7 linked regions of the Homo sapiens genome follow. The protein of the gene in region 6 purifies or fractionates together with the protein of the main gene of each other region. This does not show direct contact. Each region holds a gene or a part of one and is shown on either strand. Other genes may lie near its edges.

Region 1 (3,500 bases), on a different chromosome or scaffold from region 6:
TGAAGGGGCCCTTTTTTCCCTACTCTAGCCCCAGAATCAGTCACTTCTCCAAGAAGCCCTGATTCACTTTAATGAATAATAGGTTTACTTTCTAAGGTCTGGGTGGTATTGGTATTTTAACTCTAAAAATGAAAAGATATGCTTTAGAGAATCACCGTCTTCAGATCCGTTCATGAAAGAGGTACACAAGATTCTACTTGGAATGACAACATTATAGGAGTTCTGAAAGAAAAGGGCACTTTGGAATGTATAAGCAAGTATCTCAGCTTGGTCAACCACTATGACTTCCTCTATACAGCTCACTCACCCTGACTGTAGAGACTAAAACACTTTAACTGAGTCTTTACAGTCAAGACATTCCATTTACTTTCTCTGAAGGCGTATCCAACTCTAAAAGAATGTGAAGATATTCTTCAAATTCCTTAGAAGGTTATTTGTATTTTGTCTGCTACCAAGCTGCTACGTATGGCATAAAAACTTTCCTTTATGCTACTAACAGAAGCAAGTAAAACACCAACAGCAAGGGTATCATGGACTAAGGAAGATTCAAGAATACAGAATCCAAAAAGTCTGTTTCTAGTCTAGACCTAATACATTAAAACGGCACTTAGGCTAATCTTATCCAAACACAATGGCCAAACAAAAGTAATCAGTGTGAAATGCAAAATTTACCTGGCTAAGTTATATTAAGTGATCTGTGAAACAAAGATACAATGGAATCTTCTTTTCTAACATGAATTTTTAAAATACTTTAAGGTCTTTATCCCCAAAGCTTTCTACAGACAAAAAGCAACTAAAGAACAAACAATCTAAAGTACAAATCTATCATTCAAAAAGATGGGGGATGAGGGGAGACAAGAACAAAGGTAAAAATCATTCTGCATACATATTTTTAAAACAAAATTCACCTGGATTCTTTATTAATTAATTAATTTTTTTAATGTTGGTGTCTCACTCTGCTGCCTAGGCTGGAGTGCAGTGGCACAATCAGAGCTCACTGCAGCCACTAACTCCTGGGCTCATGTAATCCTCCTACCTTAGTCTTCCAAGTAGCTGGGATTATAGGTAGGTAGAAGCCACTGCACCCAGCTCCAGAAATGTTTCTTTTTAAAGTACAGACTCTGCATTGAATTGTAAATTTTCTTTCAATAGTATAATGCACACTGTACAGAGGCTTTTGGGACACAGGTTTTTAAAACCACCAAGGAGAGTTAGCAAATATAAATGACAATTATGTACTTAAGTAACAGAAACTTAATTTCATATATATATATTATTTATGATATATATTAAATAACCTGGGCTTCTGAAGTATACACATTGGATAAAGGAATATAATGGAAAAATATTGACCCAGGAATTAGGAGACATGAGTTCTCATGCACAAACTCATTGTGCAACCTTGGGTAAATTAGTTAACCTTTATGGACTTTCACACTGTCCTCTGCAAAATGAGGCTATTGGAGCTGATAATTTTATACTTGTTTTACTATTTCATCTGTTATCATAAATACTTATCATTTCACTACATATCATCAAGAAACAGACCTTAAGCTAAATAGGAATGAGTATTCTTCATAGCAAATGCCCTTGTGCTCCCTGCAAGATAATTCTATCAGAAGAATAACTTGCATTTTAAAACAGCTAACACTTACTGGAGATCTACTGTGTGTGTCAGGCACTGTGCTAAGCTCTTTACATGCATTAACTCACTGAATCCTCATCACGTGCCTCTGGTAGGTATTATTGTCCCTCAGTGTGGACAGGACTCGGAGAGGTTAGTCTGTCCAAGGTCACAAAGCTGGTAAATACAAAGCTAGGGCTCAAACCAGGAGTGACTCCAAAGTCACCTTACTACCTGGCTATTCCACCTCCTAATAAATAAATCATGAGCCCAATACATTCTTATTTAATCTCTGGCAGGTACTAATTTTTCCCCCCTTTTTCGTAGAGATAAAATTGCTACAACTGGCAGCCAACCAAGAAACAACTTCAAATTAATCATGTAATCAATCTTTTTTCTTTTCTTTCCTTTTTTTAGACAGGGTCTTGCTCTGTCACCCAGGCTGGAGTGCAATGGCACGATTTCGGCTCACTGCAACCTCCTCCTCCTAGATTCAAATGATTCTCCTGCCTCAGCCTTCTGGCCTCAGCTGGAACTACAGGCACATGCCACTGTGCCTGGATGATTTTTCTATTTTTTGTAGAGGCGGGGTTTCACCATGTTGCCCAGACTGGTCTCAAACTCCTGAGCTCAGGTAATCCATCTGTCTTGGCCTCCCAAAGCGCTGAGATTACAGGCTTGAGCTACCGCACCAGGTCTGGTATCCATGTCTTAAAGAGAGGTGTGTTTTTGGTTATGAGCAATATTTCCTTTTAATAAAACAAAAGGAAACAGCAAAAGTCACAAAACCTAGAAGACCAGCAAGTATCTTAAGAAGTAACACTGTCTTATTATTCATTCCCCGGCCTTCAGGGGAGACCTCATTACAATTACCCCAGGGTAGGAACTGGGGAGCAAGTGAGGGGGCTCCCAGAGAACAGGTCTTCTGACAGCATCAGTGTTGGTTCCCAGTCTCCCTCATTATTTCGCTTTGACTGCATAACTCTGAGTACCAACATAAATTTTCAAAGACAGACTGAGGCCTAACAACAAAGAGTCTTTCTTGCTTCATGTTGGGCCACTTCAACTAGCTAGTCTGCTCAATGGTAGAACAACTGTGACTTAAGTGACAATCCTCTTGCTGGTTATATGGCATTTTAAAAAGCAGGGTGAATATGATCACCTACATACAAATCCATGCACTGGAAAATAGCTACTATGGCTCACTTTCATCCCCCCAAGAGCCCAACTTGGGCCTTTTCCTATATGTTCTCAATACACTTCCTCAAGACACAAGCTGTCTCTCAAATAAGCTCTCAGGCAGAAAATCTCTCTCTCAGATGACTATCAAGCCTAGAAATCACCATTTCTGACAAGCTATGAACAGTGAGGGTATTATACCACAGAACAAACCAGGATCCACAAATAAAGGCACAAAAACCAAAACATCCAAAGAGATAGTCATTTGGATGGGGATGAATTTCATAAGCAAAAGTACCTATTTCAATTCTCTTGATTCCTCCTATAAACAAATTTCTCTAAAACACAATGTCTTTCAACCAAAGAGAGTATTGATTTCATATACTGTCTGACCCTCAAGCCCAATTTCAGTGTCAAATCTGAGCTGATGTTCTCAAAAAGTTGACAGAAATTACAAAGCTGAGCTTATGAGCATTGGGGATCTCCTCTGTGTCTCACTCAGGCAGAGAAGAAAAAAAAGAGTATCAGAACATTACCCTTCTTTGATCCGACCCTGGAAGATGCACTGAAGAATTTCTTCACTGTGGTAACCTTGCGGGTCTTCTCGTTGGTTTTCTTTTCTTCAAACTTGGAGAATGTGAGGGATTGGGCCCCTTGGCTGCTCTGACTGCTGGCAAAGGCCTCTTCTTCCTCCCGC
Region 2 (3,500 bases), about 110 Mb from region 6:
TGTTATATACATGTCTATTCTAGTTTCCTTAGCTATCTCTCTTATCTCTTCTAATTTCTTTGGAGGGAAAGACCACACTTCTTATTTTTTAACACGTTTTCCATCATCAATCCTTATGTTTAGCACACTGTAGACTAGTGATCACTGGACACACTAGGCATGTACTTGCTAGACCAAGCCATAACAGCTGCTGAAAAAGCCACTGGATGTGCCAATCACCCAAAAGCCTCACCATACACTTGTCCAGGTGCGTCTGTATGACGTCAGGGTCTACGTCCTTCACATCCAGAACGTGAAGTTCTGCTTTCACGCCATCCAGCACACGCTTGCAGTCCAGCATGCGCTGCTCGAAGTTAGCTGGCTTCTGGAAAAGCTGGAACTTTGTGGACACCTCTCGGAGTTTCCTCTGTTTGCAGAAATGAAAATATGCAATTCCCATCAGGATGATTATCTCTCTCATCATGAGCATAACAGATACTACTAAAAATTTGTACCATAAAGTACCAAAAGAAAAAAATTCAGAAATATGACCCAAAATAAAAAACTCCTAATGAATCTCAGTGAGGGTACCCGATCACCTAAGTGAACTGCATAGCCCAGTGTCAAAAATTACAACACTCAGTGTCTCAATCTCAGAAGTAATAGATTTGGATAAGAAATTTAGATAAAGCTGACCTCACTGGAATTAAAACTTCATGTTCAAAAAGATAGTTCAGGAACCTAGAACTCAAAATGCCCTTCATCACAAGTTCAGAGTGAAAGTCAATGTCATATCAACCATGAAAGAACTAAATGATGCTGCATCCAATTCATGCTCGGCCTGCCCACAGCATCAGCCACACGATACTGACAGAGGCTCTGCATTAAAGAAAAAGTGTATATAAAGCTAACTTCTAAATCTGGCTCACTCTCTTGTTTCTCATCTCAGCTATCAAAATCAGATTTCATATTTTTCCACACATGCAACAATTTGTTTCTGCTGCCCTAGGATGCAACCTTCAACACATCATCACTCCCATCCCATGGTTTACATCACAAAGAATACAAACGGTGCCCAAGTAATCAATTCTTTCTCTTTTTTGAAGAAAATTCCCAACAAGTTGAAAAGTAAAAGGAAGCTCCTGGCCTTCTTTACCTGTAGCACATCCATCTGACTTCCTCCTCTGGCAGTCCTACTCTCTGGGGAGGTCAGGGGCTGAGAACGCATATTTCTTCTCAACTCCTCTAGGGTTAGCTCATGGGCTGAGATCTCTGCTTGGATTTTCTAAAAAGAGATTGGAAAGGGGAGAGGATGTCCTTTTTTTTTTACTTAAGTATAAAAAGAGACAATACAAAAGTTCTATATCGTTGTGTAATACATGATATCGTATTTTACATAATGTTGACCTCCACAGAAGCTTTAATAAGTTTTTGTAGGCCAGGTGCGGTGGCTTATGCCTGTAATCCCAACACTTTGGGAGGCCGAGGCGGGTGGATCACGACATCAGGAGTTCAAGACCAGCCTGGCCAAGATGGTGAAACCCCATCTCTACTAAAAATACAAAAATTAGCTGGGCACGGTGGCGGGCGCCTATAATCCCAGCTACTCGGGAGGCTGAGGCAGGAGAATTGCTTGAACCTGTGGGGCAGAGTTTGCAGTGAGCCGAGATCGCGCCACTGCACTCTAGCCTGGGCAACAGAGTGAGAATCCGTCTAAAAAATAATAATAATACGTTTTTGTATAATAATAATAATATGGCCCACTGCATGGTATGACTATTGTACATGACGCACCTGCTAAGGGCTTTGCATTTGTCGTTTCTAATGTTCACAACTTATTTATAAGGAAGGAATTGTCCCAACTTCACAGCTAAGAAAACTACAATTTAAAATATACAGGACTTTTCAGCCAGGCACAGTGGCTCACGCCTGTAATCCCAGCATTTTGGGAGGCCGAGGAAGGTGGATCACCTGAAGTCAGGAGTTTGAGACTAGCCTGGACAATATGGCAAAACCCCGTCTCTACTAAAAATACAAAAATTATTGGGAGGCCGAGGCAGGCAGATCACTTGAAGTCAGGAGTTCAAGACCAGCCTGGCCAACATGGCGAAACCCCGTCTCTACTAAAACTACAAAAAATTAGCCGGGCGTGGTGGCGCGTGCTTGTAGTCCCAGTTATTCGGGAGGCTGAGGCAGGAGAGTCACTTGAACCCAGGAGGCGGAGGTTGCAGTGAGCCAAGATCGTGCCACTGCACTCCAGCCTGGGTGACATAGTGGGATTCTGTCTCAAATAAATAAATAAAATAAAATAAAATAAAATAAAATAAACTATATAAGACTTTTGCCAGAGTCTCACATAGAAAGCAAGAGAACTCCAAAACCCAAATGCTGCCCTGTAAGTAAGGTCAATCTTTCCCATTGACTCTCGGTTTTGGAGAGCAGGAGGGGTTCTCTTATAGTTGAGGAGGCAATTACAAAAGCTCTCTTTACAGCTCAAAAGCCCTCAAATGCACGGCAATACCTGAGCTTCCTGTGGAACTTGGAAAGCATCTATCCTGTCAGTCAGGTATGTGGTGAGCTGTTTGTCCAGCTCCCCCAAGCTCTCTTGCAAGACTTGAAGCATCTGGTCAGTTTCCCGCAGCACCTGGAGTTGCTTTTCCAAAGAAATCTGCTTGCTCTCTGCCTGCACAAAGGAGAAATTGAATCATTAGTTGCCCAACACAAATATAAATAGCAGAATATATATATTCTGGCCACTAAGAAAAGACCATAAAAGCTTTCATCCAAGACTTTAGCTTTCTTTATAAATAAATAATAATTACTAATGATAACAGTGAAAATGTCCCACTAGGATCTTATGTACCATGCAGCTGAATTACTAATTATTACTTCTTTCTATATATAATGTTGAAATACAAAAATGTAAAGGTTTCCCATAAGATGCATTAAACAGAAGATAAAAATGTGTTATTTATTATAATTTTAAAGCATTTTTAGGAATCAGCAATGTCTGCCAATTAAGAATATAAAACATAAGAAAAATGTCTATCAATACACAAACATCAGAGTCTCTTTTTTTCCAAAGCCTAAAACAAATTCTATAGGTGTACATACATATCAAACTACTATTTACAGCACTTTTGGGTTAAGCTTGATGTTATTCATGGGCTGAACATCAACAGTTATTATTTAATATGTGTTTGGAAGCACCTAATATTCATACCCAACCTTCCTATAAAAGAAATGTTCTTTCTCTAATTTGTGATACGAATATGTATGTTACAACCTGGATATGAACTAAGAGACTATGGCTTTCACAGCAGCTTATGTGAAATATCATGGCCCTAATATTTACTAGGATAGTATGAGTTGTTGTTCTTATATACAGCTATCATATGATCCTTAATGAAAATTAAATGTTTGTAAGTAGAAGTAATCTCAAAAATAATTTTTTTAATCATCCAGTTCTGTCTTAGAGTGTTAGATCTATTCTTCCTTTCTGAATATTTCAATACCCTCAA
Region 3 (2,390 bases), on a different chromosome or scaffold from region 6:
GAAAATTTATATATATACATATATATAAAATATAAAATAGTGGGAGAGAGGAAGAGTACAGACTATAAAGAATGAGGTATTATGTCCTAAAAATTGCTTTGAGAAATGACAGAATGCCCAGCTTATAATAAAGAGTGACAAAGTAGTAAGACTATATAATAAGCAATATTTCAAAGATGGTGGTAGGAAGAAAAAGGCTGTCATTTTTTTAGAAAAACCTAGATGTAAAAAAAATGCGAGATTTGCTAAATGATGTTTATATTTTACAGTTAGATATTCTCTAAACAAAACAAAATATCCTTCATATGGACATTTCTGGAAGTACTACTACAGTGGGACTGAAATTCTCTAGTCCCTGGTCCCTCTTTCCCCTTTGAAAAAAAAATCACTTCTATAATATATTCTTTCTCTGCCCTATTATTTAAATTGAGAATGTGAACCAGTACAGACATTATGGAAAATACGGAAATTCCTCAAAAAATTAAAAATAGAATTACCATCTGATCCAGCAATTCCACTTAAGGGTATAAATCTAAAGGAAGTGAAATCAGTACCTTGAAGTGATACCTACACTCCCATGTTCATTTTAGCATTATTCATAATAGCCAAGATATGGAAACAACCTAAGTGTCCATTAGTGAATGAATGGATAAAGAAAATGTGTGTGTGTGTCTGTGTGTGTATATATATATATGGAATATTATTCCACAATGGAATATTTTTCAGCCATAAAACAATGGAACTCCTGGCATTTGTGAAAACATGGATAATGAATGGACGTTAATGCTAAGTGATATAAGCAAGATACAGAAAAACAAGTACTATGTGATTTCACTTCTGTGGAATCTAAAAAGTCATACTCAAAAGCAGAGTAGAATGATGGTTGCCAGGAGCCAGAAGATGGAGGAAATGGGGAGATCTTGGTCAAAAGGTACACATTTTGGCCAGGCACAGTGGCTCACACCTATGATCCCAACACTTTGGGAGGCCAAGGTAGGTGGATCGCCTGAGCCCAGGAGTTTGAGACTAGCCTGGGCAACGTGGCAAAAACCCGTCTCTACAAAAACTACAAAACCTAGCCAGGCATGGTGGTGTGCGCCTATAGTCTCAGCTACTCAGGAGGCTGGGGTGGGAGGATTGCTTGAGCCTGGGAGGTAGAGATGGGAGTGAGCCATGATCACGCCACTGCAGACTCCAGCCTGGGTGACAGGGCGAGACCCTGTCTCAAAGAAAAAAAATGGTAGATATTTTCAGTTATAAGATAAATAACTTATGTTATTATAATTTACAGATTCTAAGGATCTAATATACCGCATGGTGACTACAGTTAATAATACTGTATAGCATATTTGAAATTTGCTAAGAAGATTTTAAGTGTTCTCACCACACACAAAAAAAGGTAACTGGGTGACATGTATTAATTAGCTTGATTGTGGTAATCATTTTACAGTGTATATTAGATCATCACAATGTATACCTTAAATATATATAATTTTTATGTGTCAATTATAAAGAAAATCTTTGATCATTAAGGAAGCTGAATATCCTGCTATATCTAACTCAAGCTGAGAAGGGGGAAAAAGCACAATAGCTAACACTTAGAACACTCCAAGTTGTGTTTTAAGTGCTTTTCATATATTAAATTCATGTAATTCCCATAACAATCCTGTGACTGGGCACTATTATCATCATTAATCTCCATCTTATATTAATAGATGGGGAGACTGAGTGATAGAGAAGTAACTTGCTTTAAGGGCATGGGGCAGAGCTGGGATTTGAACCCAGGTAGCCTAGCACCAGGCTGCATGCTCTGCCAGGAGGCTGTGCTTCCTCTGTAGTAAGGTGGCCTGTCCCTCTCAACTCTTTCCATCACTGGGCACAAAGCTACTGCATCAGCTGTCCTCCATATTTAAAACTCAGGTATACTCTTTGATGAAACTCTACCTTTAGAGCTTCTACCCACACTACCAAGTCCCAACAATACCAAAACACTCATAAGGGATCTGGCCCAAAGCAAACTGTTCCACATTACTACTTGGTAGAAAACGAAAAGCTCCTTTTTGATTTTTCACACTCTGGACATTTTAGTGTGTCATGACCCAGTCTGATAACCTTTTATGTCTCTTAAGCATTTTGTTGTGTTTGTAACTTTTTACCCCCTAATTCATTTTCACTGTCCTGCAAAGAGTTGGAATAAATTAAATGTCTAACAATTAGTGGATTGCTTAAATTTTTGCAGGTATATATAGTATGATCTTGTTTTATAATTCTTTTTTTATCTGTCAATCCCCATTGATTAATTTCTAAAAGAAGGTGGTAACAAAGTATATCAAAGGCTAACAGTAAAAACCATCCTCAGCAATAATCTTTTGCTGCATAATCATCTATAA
Region 4 (4,199 bases), on a different chromosome or scaffold from region 6:
TTGTACAAAGTGGGAAAATAAAGTAGAACCTGCATGTTAGGTAAAAAGGCATTCAATAAACATGTTATTATGCGGCCATCTTTCTAAAAGCACACGTGGCCTATTTTAGCCCAATAAAGACTGGGAAGCATTTACTGCAAGGTTTTCATTTTACTGGTCTGAATACTAGGTTCAAACTATACCTATACAAAAAGTAGGTTGGTTGTTTGTTTTTGAGATGGAGTCTTGCTCTGTCATCCAGGCTGGGCATCCATGCTGGAGTGCAGTGGTGAGATCTTGGCTCACTGCAGCCTCCACCTCTGAGGTTCAAACGATTCCCCTGCCTCAGCCTCCCTAGGAGCTGGGATTACAGGCATCTGCCACCACGCCTGGCTAATTTTCGTATTTTTAGTAGAGACGAGGTTTCGTCATGTTCTCCTGACCTCAGGTGATCTGCCCACCTTGGCCTCCCAAAGTGCTGGGATTATAGGCATGAGCCACCACGCCTGGCCAAAAGGTTTTTTGTGTTTTTTTTCTAAATATGGTGTACAAGGTTCAACTGTCTGCCCATCACAACTGAGGACTACATAAATAGTACTAAATTCAATATTCTGGATGTAAGAATTTATAACCAAATGCTTAGCTAGACCAACTTCAAGGTACACGTTTAGAGTAACAGTTTTTTTTGGACACACACCCAAACCACAATCTATAATTTTACTCCTTCTATTAACACTAATTTCCGAGCAATGTCTAGCCCCACCTAGACATGCAATATAAATAAGGTTTATAAATAGGATATTATAAAGGTGGGACACTGGAACTTCACAACTGGTGTACATGAAATCATTTCTGGTAAATCAGTATTTTTCCAAATATTCACAAGCTGATTTATAAGAAAGTGAAAATCCATTGTGCCAAGTTGGACTTCTGGCCTCTCGGTTTGACGATTGGTCCTTCTTCACCAGCAGCCCCCAGCCCTTCCCTTCTGTCCTTCCTCTGCCAGGAATACCCTCCTGACTCATCCCTGCCTGCCTATGTCCATCACTTCTTGGAGACCTGGCTCAAGATTCAGCTTCGGGAAAAAGTCCTCCCTGGCTAATTCCATCTCCACTAACTATTTTCTAACTTTGCATTCCTTTGGCATTTAAGTATAGTTTCACGACGTAATCACCAACTTCATTCCTTTCCTCCCTATAAGTTGTTTTGCATTTTTCTATCATTTCTCCAACTAGAGACCAAGTAGGGACAGCATCTTCTTTTATATTCTTTTCAACACAGCTAGCCATAATCACCAGTGAAAGAAAGCTGACCGCTCAAAAATTTCTGAAGAAAGCAGCTGACTTTTCGTTTATAATTTACAATACTCTATCACCTCCAACATGCATGAGTCCTTAGAGGAGAGGAATTTTATTTTTGCCTTAGTTCAAATTCATCATGAAAGATCCAACTTACAGATCACATACATATAACTTAACGTAAAGAATAATCCTGGTTATTGAAACCTATCTTGTGATTTGCCATTTCAAGTTTCTTACAAAAACCCCAAGAGTCTTGAAGCAGCGCGCCTGTGAGTGGTAGGAAGCTGGCAGCAGACTTGCAAAAGGGGCAAAACTCTAGTTGGCAGTAAATGTTCAAACACGTGAGCCTCCACTGTTAAACAAGGTTCGTTAACCACACAGACTTGCTGTTTCAGCTTTCTGGCTTCAATGAAATGCTATGATCTCCTTTGGTTATTGTTGAGAGCCAATGATGGGTTAAATTCCCATAAATTAACCAGCGCTTTGGTGGTTTGCCCGAGCATACCGCTGGCATCGGTGAAGATGGACTTTTTTTTTTTTTTAATAGACCCGCCCGCCCCGAGGAGCCAGAGGTGAGTGAGTTAAGCGCCAACCCGGCACTTCTCAGCGGGCAAACGGAGACAGACCCACTCGAGCCGTTCGCTCTCCCTCAAGTTCTTAGTGTCAGCTTATCGGGCCGAGGTGGGGCTTCATAGGCAGCTGCTTTTTACTCAATCTCAGCCGAGTCTTCCCTAGGGGCTGCAAGCCACACTTCGGCGGCTGCCCAACTTTTCCTGCAAGAAGCATCCGTTTTTCCACACTGAAAGCTCCAGAAACCCGGGTTTGGAGAGAGACGGGGAGAGAACCGGCTCGCCCCGCCGGCGGGGCAGGAACAAAGTGAGCTCCCGCGAGCCCAGGCCGCCGCGGCCTGCCCACCCTCCCGCCCGGCCCCGCTCACCCTCCAGCAGCACCTCCTTGCCCGCGCGCTTCAGCGCCTGCACGGCCTGGTCGTGGGTGGCCTGGCGCAGGTCGGTGCCGTTCACCGACAGGATGGCGTCGCCCAGCCGCAGCGCCCGGCTCTGGTCGGCAGCCAGCCCGGGGAAGATCTTGGAGATGAGGATCGGCATCCGGTTCTCGCGGCCGCCCTTGATGCTGATGCCCAGGCCGCCCGCCTCTTGCTTCACCACCCGCACCCGGCGCACGGGCGGCGACGCGCCCGCCTCACCCGCGGGGCCCCGAGGCGGCGCCGGCGGGCTCGGGGGCCCCAGGCCGCGGCTTGGGCTCCCGGGCAGCGAGTCGCCCGCGCCGCCGCCGTTTGGGAGGCCGTTGAAGGCGGCGGCCGCGGGTCCCAGAGCGGGCTCCAGCTCGGCCGCGGCGGCGTCGCCCGTCAGGCTCAGGCTCTCCCCGCTCAGCTCGGCCACCACTCGGACCCAGCGCTCCCTCAGGAGCAGCTCCACCAGCCCCGCTTTGGTGGCCCGCGTCCACACCGCCATGGCCGGCCCCGCTCCAGCCGCCGCAGTCGCCGCAGCTACCCTCATTCCAGTCAGGCAGCCTCGGCGCTTCCCTCTTCCCGCCCGGAGGGGCGGGCCCGGCCCCTCCCCCGCACGATTCATTATTCATGAGGCCACGCCTGCCTCTGGAGGGGCGGGGCCGGCGCAGCCGCTTCCGGGAGGTGCAGAAGTTGTCCGATCACTCGCCTCTCGCCGGACGTGGGCAACCCGAATGCGGTGGGACTGCATTTCTCCTCATCCTTCCATTGGCTCCCCACGGACCCCCCAGAAACTCCTGACCTCTACCGTGCAATTCACGGGAGCTGCCCGGGCACGGAAAGCAAAATCAGCTTGGAGAAACACTTCTCAAGCCTGCAAGACCCGGTGGCACGTTCATTCTTGCATTGATTGGTTCGTACCCTGTGTACTGAGCGCTTAGCCCTGTACTCCGGCTCCTTTTGAGGCCCTGTACTTAAGCTCAATAGTACCAACAACAGCTGAGAGTTTGCGGTCTAGTGGGGAAGGAAAATGCAGAACCAACCAACTAGGTGTGATACTATGTGGTTAAGTGACATGCAGAAGACGTCCCCAGAACAGCATAAAAGGAACATTTGGTTAGGCCTGGGGTCAGCTTCACAGAGGTAACAACGGACGGTGAACAGCTCAAGCAAAGGTCCAACAGCATGATCCAAGCCTTTGTCAATGTTTTGTAATCTCGTTTACTTGCCTGTAATTCAAGAGGGAACCATGTCTTCTTAAACCCTGAAGCCACAATTGGCAGGCCTCAAGGATATTTGCAGAATGATGGTGTCTTAGGGTTCTTCAGAGAAACCAACCAATAGGATATATAGAGATATATAAATTTATTATTATTACAAGGGACTGGCCACGAGATTATGGATGCTGAGAAGTCCCACGATCTGCCATCTGCAAACTGCAGGCCCAGGAAAGTTGGTGGTGCACTTCCAATCCAAGCCCAAAGGCCTGAGACCCAGAATCAGTGGTATAAACCTGAGATTGAAAGTCTGGGCCGGGCGCGGTGGCTCAAGCCTTTAATCCCAGCACTTTGAGAGGCTGAGGTGGGCGGATCACCTGAGGTCACGAGTTTGAGACAAGCCTGACCAACATGGAGAAACCCCATCTCTACTAAAAATACAAAAAATTAGCCGGGCGTGGTGGCACATGCCTGTAATCCCAGCTACTTGGGAGGCTGAGGCAGGAGAATTGCTTGAACCTGGGAGGCAGAGATTGCGGTGAGCTGAGATGGCACCATTGCACTCCAGCCTGGGCAACAAGAGCAAAACTCTGCCTCAAAAAAAAAAAAAAAAAAAGAAAGAAAGAAAGAAAGAAAAAGAAAGTCTGGGCCGGGTGCAGTGGCTTACACCTGTAATCCCAGCACTTTGGGAGGCCAAGGCGGTGGATCACCTGGGGTCAAGAGTTATAGACCAGT
Region 5 (2,610 bases), on a different chromosome or scaffold from region 6:
CCTAAGCCACCCTAACAATATCTAGAGCTGTATTTTTTTCCCCCATAGGAACATTTCTCCAGAATGTGGAGAGTAGAGGACAACATGTTGGGATGCCTGACACTCCTTGGATATTGTTCCTGAGTGGTTTGGGTGTTCCTCTGGATCCAGAATTTCATCCCAATGACACTGAGATTCCAGGCTTCTTTAGTATTTCTGATGGTGTCCATCAGAAGAAAGGAGTTGCTTATTAGAGTGTTCTCTACCGCTGGCTTGTAGTTCAGTTTATGGTAAACACTTGCTTATCACTGAGGTTTTGTATATGAATTGTGAAAATGGGGTGTGATTGTTAGAACAAATACCGCTTGACTTTCATTGGCAGCCCTTTCTGTGAGCCCCAAATTATGACCACTGTTTGCAGGGATTCTTATGGGTGCAAGTTTTCCTAGTATAACTACCCGTAAGTGGATTTAACTTGGGACTTTTTTCATAGAAATTGAGAAGGACTGAAACACTTTGAATAAACTACACACACATTTATTAAATAGTGAAATGGTTAACAAAGGCACATCAATAACCACTTACTATATATACAGAAATATATATAATTAACATGGATCCAATTATCTCATAACTGCCATTTTTTCCAACAAAGAGTCATTCAATTCTTCATGTCATGAAGGTTAAAGGCAAAGTCTTAGTCCCCATCTTATGCTTTCCCACCCTCTTCTTGAAAACTACATTGAACCTCTATGGGTTAATCATCGTCTTCTGTAGCCATAAGGTCTCTGCAAGCATGCTGACTGCAGGCTCCTCAGATTCTTTCTCCATTCCCTCAAGTCCAGTTTTTAATGAACAGGCTGTTTGCTTTAGCAGGTGCTGTTGCTGGTATTCATCCAGTTACACTATGATTTTTTAAAAATAAATCTTTCCTTGTACTTGTACATGCCTGCATTGCATTGCATCACTTATGAAGAGATAGCTCCCTCTCTCATCAGGAAAACTGGATTTGTGTGTCTATGTCTGTTGCACTTTGCACCGGATGCCCTGCCTGCCTTTTCACTGTGTTCTTTCCATGCACAACAGAAAAATGCTGGGCTGCACTGGCCAGAACTGCCATTGTATACTAATTTCTGCATCCACTTTAGAATGCTGTGCTTTTGCTTTGGACATGTTTGTACAAATGGGAATCAGATAGTCTGTCCCTCTCACAAAGCTATTTCCTGGTGGCTGCCCTTTGTATCCAAAATCCTCTGTTTGGAGCTCTTGGCTTTTATTCCCCAGACACCCACTGTCCTCCTGCCTAAGGGAGTAGTGTAAGTCAGGCACTGAACAGAAAAGCTGGGAAGGTTTAGTTAAATGCGCATTTCTAGTACAGGAAAGAGCCAAGTAGAAAATCAGAGAATGTGTGTCCATCTGTTAAAGTTTAACAAATATAGGCTTTAAATTACTCCAGAATTATAATCATACCTCAGGCCTGTCATTGTATCATGCCCTCTACAGATGATGACCATGGGAATGGATTCTGGTCAGTGGAATTTTAGGATGTTCACTATCTATTCAGTATTTTAGGTTCATTATCATATCAGAACTTTCCAGATAATAACAAAATTACGAGAGTGTTCATTTTTTGGCCTTCCTGATGTGGTGAATGACTGCATTGCTTATAGGAATTCCATCTCTGCACCTAAACACTGAGATTCAATGCCTAGAAGTTTGCTTAAGTAAAACATATTTCCCTTATCTATGCATGTAGGTGTCTGATATTTGCCCATTGGAAAGTCATGCCTTTTTAAATGTGAACACTTCCAGGACAGGCAGTATACTAAATACGGCCATTCTTGAACACCATAGGGTAATTTGTCTCTTAGATCTCAACTATGAGCAGTTCTCCATAGTCTGAGAAGCCCAACAGGAAAGCACTTAAGGGGAAAAGTCCAGATCTATCAGAGGAAACAGGCCTGATAAGTTGCTATCATGAGGATTTTCCAGGGCCAGAGGCCACCATGAGGGATGAGAAAAGGATGCTGTGAAAAGAATTTGAAAAGTACCCAAGACAAACTTGGTTTACATCTGGTTTTGCCTGTGGGTCAACTTTCTTCCAGCCAATAGAAACTCCAAGTCTCCAATTTGATGATGGTCGGGAATGCTTGCCCTGAATTCTTACCTAACATTCAGCAGCCTCAAAGAGAAAGACATTAACTGAATTCTGAAGAGGCCTAAGACCTCTTGTAAATGTCTATATACTGAACTGTTTTTAGTGCTGGTATTATCAGACTCACAGAAACACCTACAAAACATTAAACGGCTCAAAGTGGGCTTATCAAGAAATGCCATCATGGGAACCACCTTAGAAATAGTAAAACAGGGCACAAGGGGCAAGAGAACTATGTATAGGGCAGCTGACACTTGACAAGGACCCAACCTCCTCCCCGACCCTCTTCACTGTTAAGAGACACATCAGTAATACTTTGCTCTGCCATAGCCTCTGATCTAAACTCTCTTCACCGCAGTTTTCTATCAGCCCAACTCCAGAACAGTGGTCAATGCAGAGAAGTTCCAGATTCGCATTTTTGAAGCATTTTGAAATAAGGCAGAATAAAGTATTACTAAATTACATTTACTTTCTTA
Region 6 (2,585 bases):
CAGCAGAGCCCTCTCTCTCTGGCCTCTCTTCGTTCCTTTTCTCTCTGGGGCTAATCTGGCCAATGCCTAATGCCAGGCCCATCTGGCTTCTTCCCGGGGGTGCCCTCCATCCTGAGCGCCTCTTCTGGCTCACTCCTGCCTCCAGGCCTTAGCATGGGCCGGTCCCACCTCCCAGGTTGTCTTGCTCTGGTTTCCAGCCCCCTATGTTTGGTCTCCACACCTGGGATACTGGGCCCCAATTTTTAAACCAAGGGGGTATGCAGGATGTCAGCTTTGTCTTCTGCATCTCCTAAGCACTAGGGCCTCCTCTGCAGGGGATGAGTGGGGGAAGTGCTTGCGGAGGGTGCATTCTTCCACGTGAGACTGCATGGGAATTCCCTGAGGACAAAGGTCTTTCTGCTCATTATATTTGCACCGTTCATGGAGATGCTTACATTGATTCAGTTAACCGAGCAATGCCTATTCTTGGAGAAGGCTGCAGCAACACTAAAGACACTGCCTCAGCCTTCAAGGGGCAGAAAAAAACCAGAACGAGGCTGACCACAGAGGCCTGGAGGCTGAGGAAGGGCTGGCAGAGGGTTCTGGCCTCTGGCTGGGCACCCGCAATGTTAGGAGTGTGTCCCAGATGTGACAGAGGGGGGCCCAGCCCAGACCACAGCATGGCCGAGGACTGACTCCTACTCCCTTCGGTGGTGGCTGGGCCACTTTGGGGCTCCCAGTGCCTCCCTTCTGGGCCCTTCACCAGGGAAGCCCCCAAAGGGGGTGTGAGGTCCGCCTGGCTAGAGGGGCTCTTGAATTTCCCATGGGGCAGGCAAGGCCTGGGCTTCACCTGGACGATGTCGCGTTCAGCCAGCTTCCCCCGGGAGGAGATCCGCACGTCGTCGCCATCCAGCTCCACCATGGCTGTGAGGGGAGGAGTGTCATGGGGCGGGGTGAGATTAACGGTGGACCCCTGGCCCTAGCAGGAGAGTGGACTTGTCCTTTCATCCCAGGCCAATCCAGGGCCGAGACCACTGGCCCATGCCCCGTGTTAGAGATGAGGAAACTGAGGCCAGGGGCCAGGAGGAGCCCGATCAGGTGAGCCTCTGACTTTGAGCCCAGTGCTTTGGTTCACCACCCTCCCCAGACTCCCAGGGCTGGAGGAGAAAGAAGTGACTTGGGGCCTCCTCCCCACAGCCTTGGGATGTGGGTGTGGGTGCACACCCAGACCTGACACACCCTTCCCTGAGCAAACAAATGCGTCCCACACCCTGCACACTCACCCAGACACACACGCCCAGGCGGGAGCTCTCACTCTTTTGGGAGGGGTCATTCCCAGGGGACCACAGCCTCTGGGGAAACATCTGGGGTGGGGGCAGGGTTGCGTGGCTAGGGAAGGAAAGGAGGGGAAGGCAGCAGCTGGACTCACCGTCGAACTCTGCCTGGCCCACGCCGACGATAATGATGGACATGGGGAGCTTGGCAGCCTGGGAGACAGCATGGGGGGCAGGGAAAGGTTGGACCCAATTGGGACCCAGTTAAAAGGAAGGAGAAATCAGGGGTAGGACAGGAAGGGGTGGGCAGGAAAGAAATGGGAGAGTGAACATGGAGAGACAGAGAAACACAGAAAAGGGGGTAGGGAGAGGGAGGGCACTCAGAGATAAAGAGCAAAGGAAACCAGGCTGCGCCTGGAGGAGAGAGGGAGGGTGGCAGGGGGAATGGGTCATAGGTCTGCTTTGGTGAGTCACCCCCATCCCCTCTTACAGGGAGACCACCGGCTTGGGGAGCCATGTTCCTGAGCTTCCCCAACTCTGAGCCTCCCCTCCCACTCCTTTGACCTGGCCAGGCTGGCCTGGGAAAGGGGGAAGCGGTCCTAGAGATGGGTTAATGAGGGAGTCATTGGGGTCTGGAGGGAGTAGACCAGAGCGTGACTAAGAGGTGGGAACAGAGCTCACCAGCCAGATCTCTCATGATCTGGGCACCCCTTCCACCCGCTAGAATCCACTATCCAGCACCGGACTCTGCAGCCAGAGGCCAGAAGGTGGATGAGGGCAGTGGGGCCCAGTGAGGCAGGGAAATGAGAAGCCACGCCCAAGTCATCTCCAAGCATTTCCCTAAGGTCAAGGAGGTAGGCACATCCCCAGGGTTCCCCTAACGGGGAGGAAGACACTCCTCAAACCGCCTCCCCCACCGCACACTCCTTGCTTACGTTGACAATGGCCTCCTTGGTCTGCGCCATGTCCGAGATGACCCCATCAGTAATGATGAGCAGCACCGAGTACTGGGAGCCATCCTGCACGGCCGCTGCATTCCTGGGTGGGGCAGGTGTGGGCTCAGGTCTGTCTGCGGGACCTCTGGGCATGTTCCCCCCTAAACAAGGACCCTGAACACTTTGGAGGGTGACAGCTCTTGGGGGAATCTCTTCAGGGTCAGGGCTCCCTGAAAGGCAAGTGCGTGGGAAGAGAAACCCCCTCCCACCACCCAGAGGCAGAGCTGGTGTGGAAACAGAGGCCTTGTGAGTGCCTGGAGGCGGTGGCAGCGGCACTCACCTGGCCACGTGGGTGACCACGGGGGCAAAGTTGGTGGGGCCGTACAGCTGCACAGTG
Region 7 (3,500 bases), on a different chromosome or scaffold from region 6:
TCTACTTGTATCTACTTCCTGTATCCCAACTACCTATCCCAGGATCAGGAAATGAGGAAGCTCTTGGTGATCGACTGACCTTGTCACCTGGAAGGTAAAACCTGACTGTCAGATGGGAAAAGTAGGTACAGGGACCTCGGGTCCGAAAGCTCTGGGAAAGGTGGTGGCAGGGAGGAATGCAGAAACAAAGTGGGGGGCGGCTGATCCATGAGCTCGGGCTCCCCATTTAAACGAGCAGTCCTGCTGAGCTGCCTTTACCTCTGTCTTTCCCATTCTGCATCTTCTCTTCTTCTTCCTCTGCACCTTCCTCTGCTGTGAAAACAAGTCCAAGGAGGCCAGTGACCCTTCGGCACAGGACAAGTACAGAAGGAGGGTGAACAAAGCAACTGCTGAGGCTTGGGAGGAAACTCTAGCTAACAGCTCCTGGCTGCAGGCCTCTGAGGGTGCTTCAGCTCACCAGTCTGCACTTGTGCGGCCCACGCCCCAGCACTGCTGAATAGGAGCCCGTAAGACCACAGCCCAAAGGGAGCAGTGCGGTCACATCGCTCACTTTCCTGACCAGGGCTGGGGGCGTGCAGTGTGGGGTTGCGTGCCTCTGTTCTATGCCTGTCTGCCCTCAGGTGGTGATGACCAGGGAGACATCTAATGTCTTGCATTCAGGTTTAAGAAAGTGACCATACAATATATGGTGGGGGAATACCTAGATTAACACGGGGTTCTGTTAAAAAAAAAAAATTCCGTATGTTTTAGCTGATGATAAACTTAAAATGACCGCACAGTGCAAAGTGGCTATGTGGGAAGTGCTAATGCCGTCTAAGGTGCTTTTCCAGGGGACACTCAAGAGGGTCACAGATGCCTTGTGCTCTGCAGGGACAAGATCCCCTGTGATGGAGAGCAGGGTGCTGGGCCCTGGGCATGTACTTTGAATAGGAGCCTTGGAAAATGGCCACATCCTGGTATGGTCAAGCAGGCTGGTAAGAGAAAACCATGTCACGTTTGGAAAGGTTGAAGGAATTGGGTGTAGCAGTCTACAGAGGAGAAAACTAGGAAGGGTTGTCATTTGCCATCCAACCCGTGAAAGGCGAGCCTGCAGAGGAGGGACTGAGCTTATCCTGGGTAGCTTGAGAGGACAGGGATAAATCAGTTACAGAAAGTGAGATTTTGGCTCCCCACTGAGGAAGAAGTTTCCAGTGATTAGAGTTGATCATGAATGAGCTCGCTGGAAATATTCAGAGGACTGTTTTATTGGGTGGCGAGTTGGATTAAATGACTTCTAACATCCTTTACAATTTTTTTCTTTTCTTTTCTTTTTTTTTTTTTGAGATGGAGTTTTGCTCATTGCCCAGGCTGGACTACAGCGGCGCGATCTTGGCTCACTGCAATCTCTGCATCCCAGGTTCAAGCGATTCTCCTGCCTCAGCCTCCCGAGTAGCTGGGATTACAGACATGCACCACCATGCCAGGCTAATTTTGTATTTTTAGTAGAGACGGGGTTTCATCATGTTGGTCAGGCTGGTCTTAAACTCCTGACCTTAGGTGATCCACCTGCCTCAGCCTCCCAAAGTGCTGGGATTACAGGTGTGAGCCACTGTGCCTGTGGCCTCGATCCTTTCCAATTCTAGGATTCGATTATCTGTGAAAAAACTTTATAAAGATGAGGACTACAAGCTATGTATATACAGTATGTATACACTGTATAGAATATATGTAAAGATAATCTGAGTATGTCCTCTCATTGGAACAAAAACCTGTCAAGTCACTGTCAAGGAGACAGTAAAAACATGTTGGTGATGGGTGAAGCTATTCCATTCACTGAGAAATTGGCACCCTCACATGTAAAGGGAGTTTATGTCTGCATGTTAGAGGGATACCGTGCCATGTGTGGCTTTGGTCCACGTCTACCTACAGGCTTCAGTGACTGAGAGGACAGCATCAGGGAAAGGGGCCTCTGGGACTCTGGGTTTGCTATCTTGTCCTGGAGGGGAGTAAGATCTCTGGCTTGATGCTCTGAAGACCCAGGTTCTAGGACCAGCTTTCCCCCTTCAAGCTGCACGACCTTAGGCAGACCACTTTTCTGATAAGCACAGGCTACATCTCTAAAGTAAGGGACTGGACAATGTGCTCTCTAAGGCACCTTCCAAATTACACTACATAATTTTGTTGAAACCATCCTTTCTTACTATGAGACACTGCTGAGGATTCCTATAAGCTTTACATTTTTGTGAAGCTATTTGGTCTCTATGTGCTTTCCACTTAATGGTATTTAATGACCTCTCACCCTAGCACGATGAACGCAGAAGCCACTTATTTTGCATAAACTCTAATAAGTGGCCATGAAGTACAAGTGTAGTTAATTCCCATGGCCCGAAATTCCCTGAGAAATTTCCTCTAAAAGTGGGATTTCTGACATCTGTGGGGAGCTGCATTAGGGAAAGCGCCTTCTAATCACCTGTGAGGTCATCCTGAAGGCTGTCGCCTCTTCTGTTTATGTGTACAGAGCGGGGCCGTGCTTCTGATGGGGGTTGAGAAACAGTGCTAGAATGGAGAGGGTGGCACCATCAAACAAGAGAGGCAGCGTCTGACCTTAACTGACTGGAAAGACGAAGCTGGGCTATACACTCACTTTGGTCTGTATGAAAACAGGCAGACTTGAGAGCAGAGCTGGGGGCTCTGTCCAGTCCCATGACAACCCTAAACATGTGAGCTTTCTCCTACGAAGGGCTGAAAAATACCCAAGGCTTGCCTTCCCTAAGAGTGTTTGAATAAGTGTATGTGTTTGAATCGTCCGTGGAAAAACTGCTTTATCTTTTTATTTAATAATCCTGTTAAGCTACTTCAAGGTATTTAAAAGCACTACATTAGGTGGAAAGAAACAAAAGAGAGCCATCAGTGTGAGTGACCTACAGCGCTTAGGGAGGGAAACCATTAGTTTAACACAAAACATGGAGACCCCACCGCTGTGAAATCGTTAGTGACTCTCTGGCCCCTACGTAACTGGTAGAGTCATGGGGATTCCTGGAGATAGGAGGATACGTGAATGGCCTTTTATTTTCTCTCTCTTTCCTGGGTTTTATGTAAGGTGAAATGCCACGAGGTAAAGGTCTTTGGGAAGTCACTGAATTGGTGAGGTGATGGAGAGACTGAGAAAGAAGTCACAGATGAGCTGAACACAAGGAGCAGAAGAGGCGACAGACTCAGGTCATGAACTTCAGGTGAAATCAGAGCCTGGTCACGGACAAAAGGAGGGAATAGGTTTCAAAAACAAATCAAACAGGAGAGAGCAGAAAGGCAGCAGGGGAAGGTCCAGAGCTTTCCTGGCTGATTCCGCTCCAGACCTCCAGGGAAGTTTCAGAATGAGGTGGTCGGTCAGGCCTAGGGAGAGAGCGGCTGTGGACAAAGTACAGATGGAAGACGAGGTAAGTGAGGAAGGGGCCTGCCTGCACTGAAAGGTCTGAATTTCTCTACATTCAGCTTGCTCCACAAGATGCACTCCTGAGATA

Evidence for each region.
Region 1: the proteins of CPNE5 (region 6) and RABGEF1 purify together in Homo sapiens (affinity purification with mass spectrometry; 2 studies listed by BioGRID and IntAct, with this or other methods). This does not show direct contact.
Region 2: the proteins of CPNE5 (region 6) and UTRN purify together in Homo sapiens (affinity purification with mass spectrometry; 2 studies listed by BioGRID and IntAct, with this or other methods). This does not show direct contact.
Region 3: the proteins of CPNE5 (region 6) and DHRS7 purify together in Homo sapiens (affinity purification with mass spectrometry; 2 studies listed by BioGRID and IntAct, with this or other methods). This does not show direct contact.
Region 4: the proteins of CPNE5 (region 6) and SNTB2 purify together in Homo sapiens (affinity purification with mass spectrometry; 2 studies listed by BioGRID and IntAct, with this or other methods). This does not show direct contact.
Region 5: the proteins of CPNE5 (region 6) and MBNL3 purify together in Homo sapiens (affinity purification with mass spectrometry; 2 studies listed by BioGRID and IntAct, with this or other methods). This does not show direct contact.
Region 7: the proteins of CPNE5 (region 6) and DTNB purify together in Homo sapiens (affinity purification with mass spectrometry; 2 studies listed by BioGRID and IntAct, with this or other methods). This does not show direct contact.

The regions. Positions count from the first base shown.
Region 1 is NC_000007.14:66,775,233-66,778,732, reverse strand, and holds part of RABGEF1 (rab5 GDP/GTP exchange factor), read right to left. Parts: coding exon 3,340-3,500; intron 1-3,339. UniProt on the Homo sapiens protein: Rab effector protein acting as linker between gamma-adaptin, RAB4A or RAB5A. Involved in endocytic membrane fusion and membrane trafficking of recycling endosomes. Stimulates nucleotide exchange on RAB5A. Can act as a ubiquitin ligase.
Region 2 is NC_000006.12:144,487,835-144,491,334, reverse strand, and holds part of UTRN (utrophin), read right to left. Parts: intron 2,663-3,500; coding exon 2,501-2,662; intron 1,265-2,500; coding exon 1,136-1,264; intron 407-1,135; coding exon 233-406; intron 1-232.
Region 3 is NC_000014.9:60,146,009-60,148,398, forward strand, and holds part of DHRS7 (dehydrogenase/reductase SDR family member 7 isoform 1 precursor), read right to left. Parts: intron 2,214-2,390; exon of another isoform or gene 1-2,213. UniProt on the Homo sapiens protein: NADPH-dependent oxidoreductase which catalyzes the reduction of a variety of compounds bearing carbonyl groups including steroids, retinoids and xenobiotics.
Region 4 is NC_000016.10:69,185,765-69,189,963, reverse strand, and holds the start of SNTB2 (beta-2-syntrophin), read right to left. Parts: upstream 2,801-4,199; 5' UTR 2,798-2,800; coding exon 2,218-2,797; intron 1-2,217. UniProt on the Homo sapiens protein: Adapter protein that binds to and probably organizes the subcellular localization of a variety of membrane proteins. May link various receptors to the actin cytoskeleton and the dystrophin glycoprotein complex.
Region 5 is NC_000023.11:132,368,820-132,371,429, forward strand, and holds the end of MBNL3 (muscleblind-like protein 3), read right to left. Parts: 3' UTR 501-2,610; downstream 1-500. UniProt on the Homo sapiens protein: Mediates pre-mRNA alternative splicing regulation. Acts either as activator or repressor of splicing on specific pre-mRNA targets. Inhibits cardiac troponin-T (TNNT2) pre-mRNA exon inclusion but induces insulin receptor (IR) pre-mRNA exon inclusion in muscle.
Region 6 is NC_000006.12:36,742,860-36,745,444, forward strand, and holds part of CPNE5 (copine-5), read right to left. Parts: coding exon 2,529-2,585; intron 2,292-2,528; coding exon 2,189-2,291; intron 1,668-2,188; coding exon of another isoform or gene 1,518-1,667; exon of another isoform or gene 1,473-1,517; intron 1,467-1,472; coding exon 1,409-1,466; coding exon of another isoform or gene 1,263-1,408; intron 904-1,262; coding exon 830-903; coding exon of another isoform or gene 431-829; exon of another isoform or gene 392-430; intron 1-391. UniProt on the Homo sapiens protein: Probable calcium-dependent phospholipid-binding protein that may play a role in calcium-mediated intracellular processes. Plays a role in dendrite formation by melanocytes.
Region 7 is NC_000002.12:25,383,578-25,387,077, forward strand, and holds part of DTNB (dystrobrevin beta), read right to left. Parts: exon of another isoform or gene 2,785-3,500; intron 2,536-2,784; coding exon of another isoform or gene 2,486-2,535; exon of another isoform or gene 2,450-2,485; intron 1,634-2,449; exon of another isoform or gene 1,489-1,633; intron 313-1,488; coding exon 259-312; intron 1-258.